Regions from separate parts of the Homo sapiens genome. Here region 1 is linked to region 2. The links come from fine-mapping of genetic effects on gene expression. A gene starts in region 2. The other region holds a variant in brackets. All regions are shown on one strand. Distances are between the middles of the regions. Region 1 overlaps GALNT10 (polypeptide N-acetylgalactosaminyltransferase 10). Region 2 holds the start of SAP30L-AS1 (SAP30L and GALNT10 antisense RNA 1).

What was found. PIP is the estimated chance that this variant, and not a neighbour inherited with it, causes the effect.
Region 1: its variant is fine-mapped to the expression of SAP30L-AS1 in fibroblasts (GTEx, PIP above 0.99).

Annotation. Positions count from the first base shown.
Region 1 is chr5:154,387,674-154,393,045 of GRCh38, forward strand. All of the region lies in intron 7 of GALNT10 (polypeptide N-acetylgalactosaminyltransferase 10), which reads left to right. It overlaps SAP30L-AS1 (SAP30L and GALNT10 antisense RNA 1), which reads right to left. Exons shown (of 3, transcript NR_037897.1): 3 at 2,096-5,341. Among named protein-coding and RNA genes, the nearest start is that of MIR1294, 43 kb to the left of the region's middle. The variant C/G (reference allele first, on the strand shown) is at 3,038.
Region 2 is chr5:154,443,135-154,448,506 of GRCh38, forward strand. It overlaps SAP30L-AS1 (SAP30L and GALNT10 antisense RNA 1), which reads right to left and starts at 2,688. Exons shown (of 3, transcript NR_037897.1): 1 at 2,604-2,688; 2 at 228-346. SAP30L (SAP30 like) reads left to right here and starts at 2,863. Exons shown (of 4, transcript NM_024632.6): 1 at 2,863-3,671. The coding sequence starts at 3,471. RefSeq lists enhancers at 2,487-2,606, 2,660-3,160 and silencers at 2,737-3,266, 3,397-3,506.

The DNA.
Region 1 (5,372 bases), 55 kb before region 2:
CAGAGTTGTTGAGAGGATTAAGTGAGACCATGCTTATTAGGTGCTTCTTAATAAATTATCCTAAAGATTATTATCAATACATTAATATTATTATCTGCAACAGTGGTTGAGTAGTTCAGAACTGGAGAACATAAATTCTTGATTAGCCCAAAAAAAAAAAAAACCTACAATTCTTTTGATGTTATTTAGGTTTGAAAAGCAGTTTATATCCTTTTTTTTTCTTTTCTTTTCTTTTGTTTTTTTTTTTTTGAGATGGAGTTTCACTCTGCTGCCCAGGCTGGAGTGCAGTAGTGCGATCTTGGCTCACTGCAGCCTCCACCTCCTGGGTTCAAGTGATTCTCCTGCCTCAGCCTCCTGAGTAGCTGGGACTACAGGCGCCCACCACCACGCCCAGCTAATGTAGAGATAGGGTTTCGACATGTTGACCAGGCTGGTCTTGACCCCCTGACCTCAGGTGATCCACCCACCTCGGCCTTTCAAAGTGCTGGGATTACAGGTGTGAGCCACTGTGCCTGGCCAGTTTATATCTATTTTAACCACCAGAGTTCTGAAGTTGTCTCCCATAAGGAGACCAGCCCCCTAAATAAAATTAATATTCACATAAGGGTAATGTTCAAAATATGTAACAACTGTGATAACACAAGCACATCCAGTCAGAACAGATACCAGCTATAAACAATGGTGCATCCACTCCAGCGTGTAACAAGTGAAGTTCGGTCCTGATCATAGCTAACAGGACAGTGTGCCAAGCCCTTCATACATGCTGACTTGTTTAATCCTCACAACAACCTTAGGAGAGTTGTATCATTATTATACCCGTTTCACCAGGAAGGCAAGCAAAGCTCAGACCAAGGCCTCGCACAGCCGGAAGAAGCAGAACTGGGGCCCAAACGCAGGTCTGCTTGACTCCAAAGCCCACGCTCTGACCTGCTATTTTTGTTGTTGTTTAAATCATACCCAGACTGTTCTGAAAACCTGCCATGTTTTATGGACCTCTGCCTCACCCTTTCTGGGATTTTTTTTTTTTTTTTGCCTCTTCTGGTATTATTCCTAGTTTACTTGGATATTCTGCAATTTCTTAGTTAATGGAATTAATAACAATCTAAGTCGGAAGTGGCAAATAGGGCCAGGAATGGTGGCCGAGATGGGAGGATCTCTTGAGCCTAGGAGTTTGAGACCAGCCTGGACAACACAACACGACCCCATCTCATTAAAAAAAAAAAAAAAAAGAAGGAAAGAAAGAGAGAGAGAGAAGGAGTGGGGAGGGAGAGAGGGAGGGGGAAAGGGAGAGAGAGAGACAGAGAGAGAGACACAGCAAATAGGTTTCTACTCCCTGCCAGGCCAACTCTGATCCATTGGTAGGGGCTGCCCCAGGTGGGTGTTGATATGCATTCTGAGGCTGCTTCCAAGCTTATCAGCAAAGAGTAGTCAGTGGGGGAGGGATCTTTTTGTGTTTCACTCACCGCCATATCCCAAGTACCTAAAGCCTGGTCCAACACAGAAAAGACACTATGAGACCAATTTTTATGAGTCATAATTTTTATTATTGTATTAAATCTTTTCTAAAATTATATTTATATAAATATCTTATAAATATTCTAAAAATATGTAAAATGTATAAAAGTCTAGTAGTTCTGATATAACACTGTCAGCCATAATTCTGGTTATCATGTTAAAATACTACATATAATAAAATAACTAAATTCAAGACCAGCCTGGCCAACATTGTGAAACCCCATCTTTACTAAAAATACAAAAATTAGCCAGGCGTGGTGGTACATGCCTGTAATTCCAGCTACTCAGGAGGTGGAGACAGGAGAATTGCTTGAAGCTGGGAGGCAGAGGTTGCAGTGAGCCGAGATCGTGCCACTGCACTCTAATCTGGGCGACAAAGCGAGACTCCATGTCAAAAAAAAAAAAAAATCAAAAACCTTTATCAAATTTTAACTGGGATTATTCTATTTTTCTCACTTATTTAGAATTATTATTCTAAATTCTTCTATAAAGGCATTTACAATAAATTCTAGTCCAACATTGCTTTTCATAAAAAAGACTCCAATAAATATAAGTATAAAAAATAATACAATTAAAAGTATACAAATATATATTCCAATTTTATTAAATATCATATTTTTTCCAGTCTACAACAGACTTTATTACTATGAAGTCTGTATTACTGTATAGAATCTATAATATCCTCATAATAATCCTATTAAAATATTGTATTAAATACAAAAAAAAGACACCATCAAAAACCCCCTGCATCCTACTAATGAGAACTAAACTCAGTCCAAAACATATTTTCCAAGAAAAGGCTAAAAAACACACTAGGTCTGATACAACTACAACTAAAAATTACCAACCTTCCTAAACAAGAGCCCTTCTAACTACAGATGGCAATCAACATTAATTCTTACCAACACAACCAAACAATTTATGACCAAAAACTTCGTGAAACAAAGTGGCAAATGTAAGAGGCCGTGTTTGCCCATTTCCCTTTGCTGGGAGAATTTCACAAAGCCCCTGACTCCGGGACACTGTGCAGCTCTCTGGAAAAATGTTTTAAAGGCAAAACAGGATAGAACGCATGGCCCCCCATGTCTCTCGCCTGAGTCACTAATTCCATCAAAGATAAATGACCCTAGTCCTCGCCTTTCTCTACTCATAAAATAACACCCGACAAGAATAGTGACTATGTTTCTGTAATCTATAACCAGATGTACTCTAACACCCAAACCTTGATGTAATTTTTCACATACTAAATCTTCACCACCTATGTATAAACTAAAATACTACGTTGGAGGAGTCTGAGAGAACCTTTCTAAAAGCCTCCTCCCAGGCTACAGGCCTTGGTCTATAATCCTCAAGAAGACTTCTAAATAAAACTAACTTTAATTCTTTAAAAGCTTCGTTTTTTTTCTTTAGTTGACAGCAGTTAACAAATATTGGCTGAATACTCCAAGTAAGTGTGTCCCTGGCCAGAATCAGCCTCCAAGCTCCTAACTGGCTCCTTGCTCTAGAAGACCCTCTTCAGAAC[C/G]CCCACCATGGAGAACAGTGAATGGAGAAAGATTTGCACAAAGGAATTTCTAAACCAGCCCAAAATGATTTCATTCTATGTGTTTCAAAGACCCATCTACTGATGCTCATCAGGCAATTATGGCAGAACAAATGGCATTTTTCTCCACAGTTATTTACAATAGACTTGGTAATGAAGCCATATTGGAAGTATCTCATCCGGGAGGGGGAAGGAGGCTGGCTTACATTTCCATTTGATCCAATTATGTCCGTCACTCTCCAGAGGAAATGAGACAGTGTAATGAGGAGGCTCCTGAGGTCCGGAAGGGAGACTTTTCTCCCTGGGCTTTCTCTCTCCTGGCTTGGAAAAGGAGAGTTTCTGGAGCCAGCAACAGCCCATCTGCCAGTGCACTGTCTCCCAGGACCCTGTGGAAAGACTGCCTGCAGGGCTGAGGGGAACAGGTGAGCCCATTCATCCCTGGCAGCGCCCTGCTGGAATGCAGGTGTTCTCTTTCAGCCAGAGCTGGCATTTACGAAGGACCGAATTCCCTCTGATTCATCTCTGCTAAGATCCCTTTTCTTGGTGACAGAGAGAAGCCTGGTCTGAAAGGCATGAGTGTATTTTCAGAAATTAAGATCAATCAACACGTACCTTCAGGGCTGAGGGCTGATTCCAGACCGGATTCTCTATCCTGATGAGAAAATCCCCAAAAAGTGTCCCAACAGCTCTGAAATTTCTAGAAAAGTCATTGACTTTCCCTTTCCCTCCCTCCTTCTCTGTCTGTCTCTCTCAGCAGAGCAAAGTTCTCACGTGGAAGTCAGAATCTTCCTAGTTCTAGTGGTTGGACAAGTCTTTAACTCCATAGCCTAGCTCCAGCTAGGTTCATGAGCTGGCCCTACTGCTCTCTCCTTTCCCCTTTTCCTCTTATCCCATTGCATTAGTCTGGATTCTTGCTTACAGATAACCAAAACCTTAGTCAATCTGATTTAAGCAAAAACCAGAATTGATAGGCTCACATAACTGAAATTCCAGGGTAGACCCTAAGGCCGGGCTGGATGCAGGGACTCAGTCATCTCACTCGGGCTAGGTCTCTCTCAATGCCTAGTCCCTATTTCATCTGAGTTGGCTTCCCTCTCAGGTGGGCTTTTTCTCATGGAGATCCTCAGCAGCCCATGGAAGGAGAGTGTTTTTCCCATCATCTTGTACAAGTCCCCAGGTTGAGTCTCATTGGCCTGCTGGCCCCATGCCCATCCCTGAACAATACTGCAATTGGTCACCTGCAGTCACATGCCCTGTGACTGCAGGAAGGTGGGGATGGGCTAGTTACCCAAAGGAAAGTCCAGGTGCTGTGCCCAGAAGGGAGAATGGATGTGGGGCAGAGCAAACCGTAGATGTCTACCTTACCCAGCCAGACAAGACTGCATGTAAGAACCAGGCTTACGGGCCAGCCCCTCTCTGCAGGCCCACACTGTACACTCCTGAAATGCCATTCCTTAGTCTGGCCAACCCTCATTCACCCTTCCAATCTCAGCTTATATAGATGGCTCCCCATGCTGCCTAGGAACTACCCCACATTGCACTCCCATCTCTGCATGCTCCCTGGAGGCAGGGAGGAGGTTTTGTCCACCTCTATATCCCCAGTCTCTGGCCCACATCAGTGTTTTCAGTAAGTGTTAGTGTGTTAGTGGCATCACTTCCAACTGATATACCTCCTTGGTACTACCCTTCCCAGACTTAGGAGGCCATCTTTGGACAATGGTGTATGGTGGGAAAGTGCTCAGCAAGGAGGCTCTCCTTCCATCCTAGGACCCTGGGCCAGTTGTTTCACCTCTGGTCCTCATACCCCAGACTGTGCTGATACGGTTTTCCTTCCTACCCCACAAGATAGGATCAAATGAGATGCTGTGTGGACAGCCCTCTGACATACACAGATATGAGGGGTTGTTTGGATTAGGGGGGGAGGCAGCAGGATGAGCAGAAAGGAAACTGCACAGTGTCCCCAGGAGGCCATGGTTAGGATATCTCCAACTATGAGATACGGGAGACAGAAAGTATCCAACCAGGACAATGTGACCAAACTAAAGTGAGAAAAATGTAGGCTTTGGGGCAGTGTAAGTGGGTATATCTTCTGTGAATAGCAATTTGGCAAAATCCATTACATTTCAGAGCAAGCACATTCTTTGACCTGAAATTCCATGCCCAGGAGTTTATATAAGAGAGACAGTGATGAGCAAAGATTTATTTGCTGAAGTGTTACTTACCATAGCAGAAGATTGAAAATGACCCAAATGCACGTCCTTTGGGGATAAATAAGTTAGAGCATATCTAAACAAGAAAATATTACGTAAAATAAATT
Region 2 (5,372 bases):
CATAGCAATATGGGGAAAGATTATGATAAAGTATGCCTTGAATAAAGACTACAAAATTATACATAAAGAATGGCTGGGAGCGGTGGCTCACACCCGTAATCCCAGCACTTTGGGAGGCCGAGGCGGGCAGATCACCTGAGGTTGGGAGTCCGAGACCAGCCGGACCAACATGGAGAAACCCCATCTCTACTAAAAATACAAGATTAGCCGGGAGCAGTGGTACATGCCTGTAATCCCAGCTACTCGGGAGGCTGAAGCAGGAGAATCGCTTGAATCCGGGAGGCAGAGGTTGCGGTGAGCCGAGATCGCGCCATTGCACTCCAGCCTGGGCAACCAGAGTGAAACTCTGTCTCAAAAGAAAAAAGAAAAAAGAAAAAAAAAGAACAGTTACAAGCATGAACTCCCCCACCACCACCACCACACACACACACACACACAGAGGCTGGCTGGGCGTATCAGGCTGGGTGTAATCAGGAAAGAGTAACCTTACAGTAATTTGAACAGGAAAATAATAATATAAACATGTATTAATTATAATAGGGGACTGTAGTCCCCTACAGTTATAAGGAACTGCCTAGTAAAAAGAAAAAAGAATGCTAAATAATACAAGAATAGCAGATATAAGTAGCCACTACCTCAAGGACTGAGACAGAGCACCTAAGAAAAGGTCCTAGATCCCCTTAGACCAGGGCAAGTTGGTGCAGAAGAAGTTGTGTACCGCAATAGCCTAGCATTGAATACAAATGCTGTTTAGAAAAATATGGGGAACATGGAGGTTTCATCCATACCAACTGACTTTGGACCCAACATCACACAGTGCCTGGTACAGATACCCAAGTGTTTTCTACATATATGTCTGAACACCCCAGATAGGAGATATTCTTTTAGGGCAAGGGTTATGTTTCATCCTCCTCCTATAGCCAACCCTATACTTGGTATACATAATGAGTTCAACAACAATTTACTTTTGAACAGAATATATGAACTCTGAGGGAAGACTCCTATTAATCTGTGCCTTTTTTCCATTAATTTTTATTCTATTTTTTCTACTGTAAAAACAAAAATAATGCTTATTAAAGAAAATGCAAAGGTTAAACAAAAGGAGAAAAATATCAGCCATATTCCTGCTACCCAGAAATAATCACTGTTAGTACTTTGGTGCATTTTTTATACCAATAGTTTTCTTTTTTCTTTAAACATAGATGTACAGACATCGTATCCTCCATGCAATTTCATATCCTGAATTTTTTTACTTATCATAAAAAAAGCATTTCTCCAACTCCTCATCAGCTCTTTATTTAAGAATTAATGGTGAATTATTCTCTATAGAAAATGTTTACATTGATGTTGAAACTACCTCAAATGCTAACTGCACAATCTCTTTCTGAAGATTTTAGGTAGTTTACTTAACCACTTCCCTTTTGGAACTCTGAGGTTCTATTTTATTTTTCCTATTATAAATAATTCCATAATGAACATCACTGTACTTCATATTATCTCTGATAGGCCTATTTCCGACGATGGCTGTCCCACGTGTGAAATTACCAGTTCAGATGCTACAAATGCATTTATGGCCACTGAGCAAAACTTAAGATCACCAGCCACCTGCTTCTAAACATGGAAACTGGTAGCTTTCCCTTTTACAACAGGACACAAACCCGAAGCTCCTTCTATGCCCTCTAGTACTAACACTTGCTTACCTATCACCTAACACAGCCTCCCCTCTTCCCTGCCCATAAAACGCTGCCCAGCCCTACATAATTACACGACCCTGGGCTGGTCCCATCGCCTTTCGGACCTCATCAGTCCCCATGCTGCGCAGTTGGAGAGTGGCATGACTGAAGTGCTGGACCAGAGCATATCCTACGGCCCCTCCTGGAGGGGAGGTGGTGCCCTGGGCGCCGAAACCAAGCGCAGGGTCTTGGCAGGGCGCAGTCGCTTCGCCGGTAGACCCGGGGACTCAAAGCAATAGAACTACAGCTTGGAGCTCCAGGGAGAGCCCAAGACACCGCAGCCCTTCCCCATCTAGATTCCGAGATTGGCCCCTGGGCCCCACTCCCAGCCTTCACTTCATCTCCCCTGAAGCCCTTTCTCTTGCCCGCGGCTCACCTAGTCCACCCTCCAGACCTCATTCGGACTTCCCATTCTTCCCAGTGGAGGGGTCGCCCAAACCCCTCGGGGTCTCCTTTCCCCCTCTCCTTTTCTTTCCGCGCCGTCCAAGCCAGTCCCACTCTCCACACTCTGGAAGGTATCGGCTACCCCCAATATTGCGACTGCCTTGCAAGATCCCCCCATCACCTCCTCCGCATGTCTTTCCACGTATCTGTATGGGGTTGTCCCTCTGTCTTTCCCGCCATGACTGGCTTTCCGTCCTATTTCACCCACCCTTCCTCCCACGGATCCGCGAGTCCTCTGGCCCTGGCCCTTTCATTTTATTAGTCCGCCCCTCTCCTGATAGCACCTCTATCCTCTTTAGGTCCCCTCATATGCCCCTCCTCCAAGTCTGTCCCTCAGCGTCCCCGTCCGCGTCTCTACTGTCTGTCCCCGAATGTGTTCCTCTGTTCCTGGAGTCTGGCCCTCGGTCCAGCCAGGCCCCTGCTCACCATCCCTCCCCCGGGCCGGAGAGTCTGCAGCCCGGTTCCCGGTTCTCGCTGGGGTAACTCTTTCCTCTTCCACTTTCTCTACTTTGAACCCATCCCAGCAGAGTCCAGGAAGTAGCCTGGCGCCGGAGACTGGCGGCGGCGACGCCCAATGGGACGCGCCAGCGGCGGCGGCAGCCCCGCCCAGAGAGCAAATGAGACCAATGGTCGCGTGAAGGCGGGACTTCCGCTGTCCCGCGAAGGGCGGGGGGAGCGAACTGTTGTGGTGCGGAGCGTTCGGCGGGCGGCGGCCGGGCGGCCCAGGGGCTGCCGCGGGACTCGGGGCGCAGCCGAGTGGCTGCAGGGGTGGAGTGGGCCGGACGAGCCGCGGGGCCCGGGTGCCGCGGGTTCGAGGCCGGGCCCCGCGCGAGGAGGCCGCGCCACCCCGGGGGAGCTGCCCGGCAGCGAGTTTGCCCCGCTGCCGAAAGAAGGCGGGAGCCGGCAGGGGCCTTCGAAACCCCCTGGCAACCCAGGCCCGGAGTCCTTGGGGAGCGGCTGTTTCCTGGGACGCCCTCCCGGACACCCCCGCTGCAGGGTTACGGTTCTGGGCCCCCGGCAGAAGGCTCCTCCGGGTGACCCCCGGCGGGGCCCTGCGAGCCGCGGGAGCCGACCCCGGGGCCTCGAGCCGGGAGGAAGGGGGCTTCCGGAGGCGGAGGGCCGGGGGCCGAGGGAGCCGGGCCTCTCGGACGCGGGGCAGGGCAGCGCCCGGGCTGGAGACGGACTCTGGGACCCTCGGCTGCGGGGGTCTCAGCGACCTGCCCCGCGGCAAGCGCGGCCGCGGAGTGGCCTACCGGGGACCCTCCCCCAGAGGGACCGGCCCGGGGCGGGGAGATGAACGGCTTCAGCACGGAGGAGGACAGCCGCGAAGGGCCCCCCGCCGCCCCAGCTGCCGCCGCCCCGGGCTACGGCCAGAGCTGCTGCCTCATCGAGGACGGCGAGCGCTGCGTCCGGCCCGCGGGCAACGCCTCCTTCAGCAAGAGGGTCCAGAAGAGCATCTCGCAGAAGAAACTCAAGCTGGACATCGACAAGAGCGTGAGTCCGCCCCCGCTCGCGTCTGGGCCCCGGCGCCCCCAGCTCTCCGTCCGCTGCCCTGGGCTCCAGTCGGGACTCCCCGGGCACTCCCCGCCGTGGGCCTCGCCGCCCCGGCTCTGCAGAACTGAGTTGGACTCCGCATTTCAAAGGCCGCTCCAGCGCTGACATGCTCTGACTGTGATTCTACCCAGATCCGGGAGGATGGGGGCGGGGGCTTCAGGACTCCTGCTGCCTGGAAAGATTGGACAGCAGTTTCCAACTTGTTTTATTGGTTTAGACTTTAGAGCAGGGAGAGGTGGGTTAGTTTTGTTGGCCCTTGAAGGAGCAAGAATCGGAGCGGGGAGTGATGAAGATACCCGGCTCTTTTCCAACTTCTCTCTCCTTCTAGGAACCCTGTTATTCCTTCAGACAGAGAAAGGTGGCAGTTACTTCCCTGGCTCCCGCATCCTCGGTATCAGCAGAGGGTCACCGAGCTAGCTGCTTCGCAGGCAGCTGTGGGAATGGGTTTTTCTAGGATGTGGCAGAAATAAGGCCAAGGCCAGGTCTTGAGAAATGGCTCTTGCAGTCGATGTGACTGGAGGGGGGAAGAAAAGAAATCAATTTTCTTAGTGGTAGTTTCTTTTGAAATAAGGGGGTGGATATTTAAATTTAAATCGGATTGCCCTGCTCTTTGTGGCTTATTATAGGAAACTCCTCCCGTGTGACTTCACCACTTCTAGTTAACAATTCTGAAGCTGTGCCTATTGTCAACCAATTAAGAACTTTTTAGTTTGACATCTGTTGCTACAAGCCTTAAGTGATTGCTTCATGATTAGGAATTGGAAATGAGTTAAGGGGATATTTAATATTCAGGTAGACTAGCTAAGAGCTTAGGTGGTTAACATCCATTCTCTTCTAGAATCAGAATTTCTCCACAGTTGGAGGAAATCAGAGACTGCTTGTTAAACTGAAAGGGAGTGCACGTTTCCCCTCTGATTTTAGGGTTGAAACAGGCCCAGAGATAGGAAGTGAGGGTGTCAGGTACACACAGCACCTAAGAGGCTGGTTAATTTCTTAAAGATATTATCTAATTTACTTCCAAGCCCTATACATAAGTCTTCATTAAGTCTCTAATAAATAAAAAATCTCCCCTGTCCTTTTTCTTTTCTTTTTTTTTTCTTTTTCTTTTTTTTTTTTTTTTTTTTTTTTGAGACGGAGTCTCACTCTGTCACCCAGGCTGGAGTGCAGTGGCAAGATCTCGACTCACTGCAACCTCCGCCTCCCGGGTTGAAGCGATTCTCCTGCCTCAGCCTCCTGAATAGCTGGGATTACAGGCGTTTGCCGCCATGCCTGGCTGATTTTTGTATTTTTAATGGAGATAGGGTTTCGCCATGTTGGACAGGCTGGTCTTGAACTCCTGACCTCAAATGATCCACCCGCCTAGGCCTCCCAAAGTTCTGGGATTACAGGCGTGAGCCACTGCGCCCAGCCCCTGTCCTTTCTTCAGACTCTTCCCTCCTACCCCCATTTTTAAGTTAATCATTATAATACAGTTGCAGCTCTTGCATGGACAGGTGCTATTTTTAAGTGGTTGGGAGAGAGTTAATGGCTTTCTTACTACAAATCTCTATCAATGAATGCATGAATGGAAATATCTGAGAACAAACAAGGGTCTAGACACCAAGGTGATCCCTCCTTAGGTCACACGTTGAGGTGAAATGC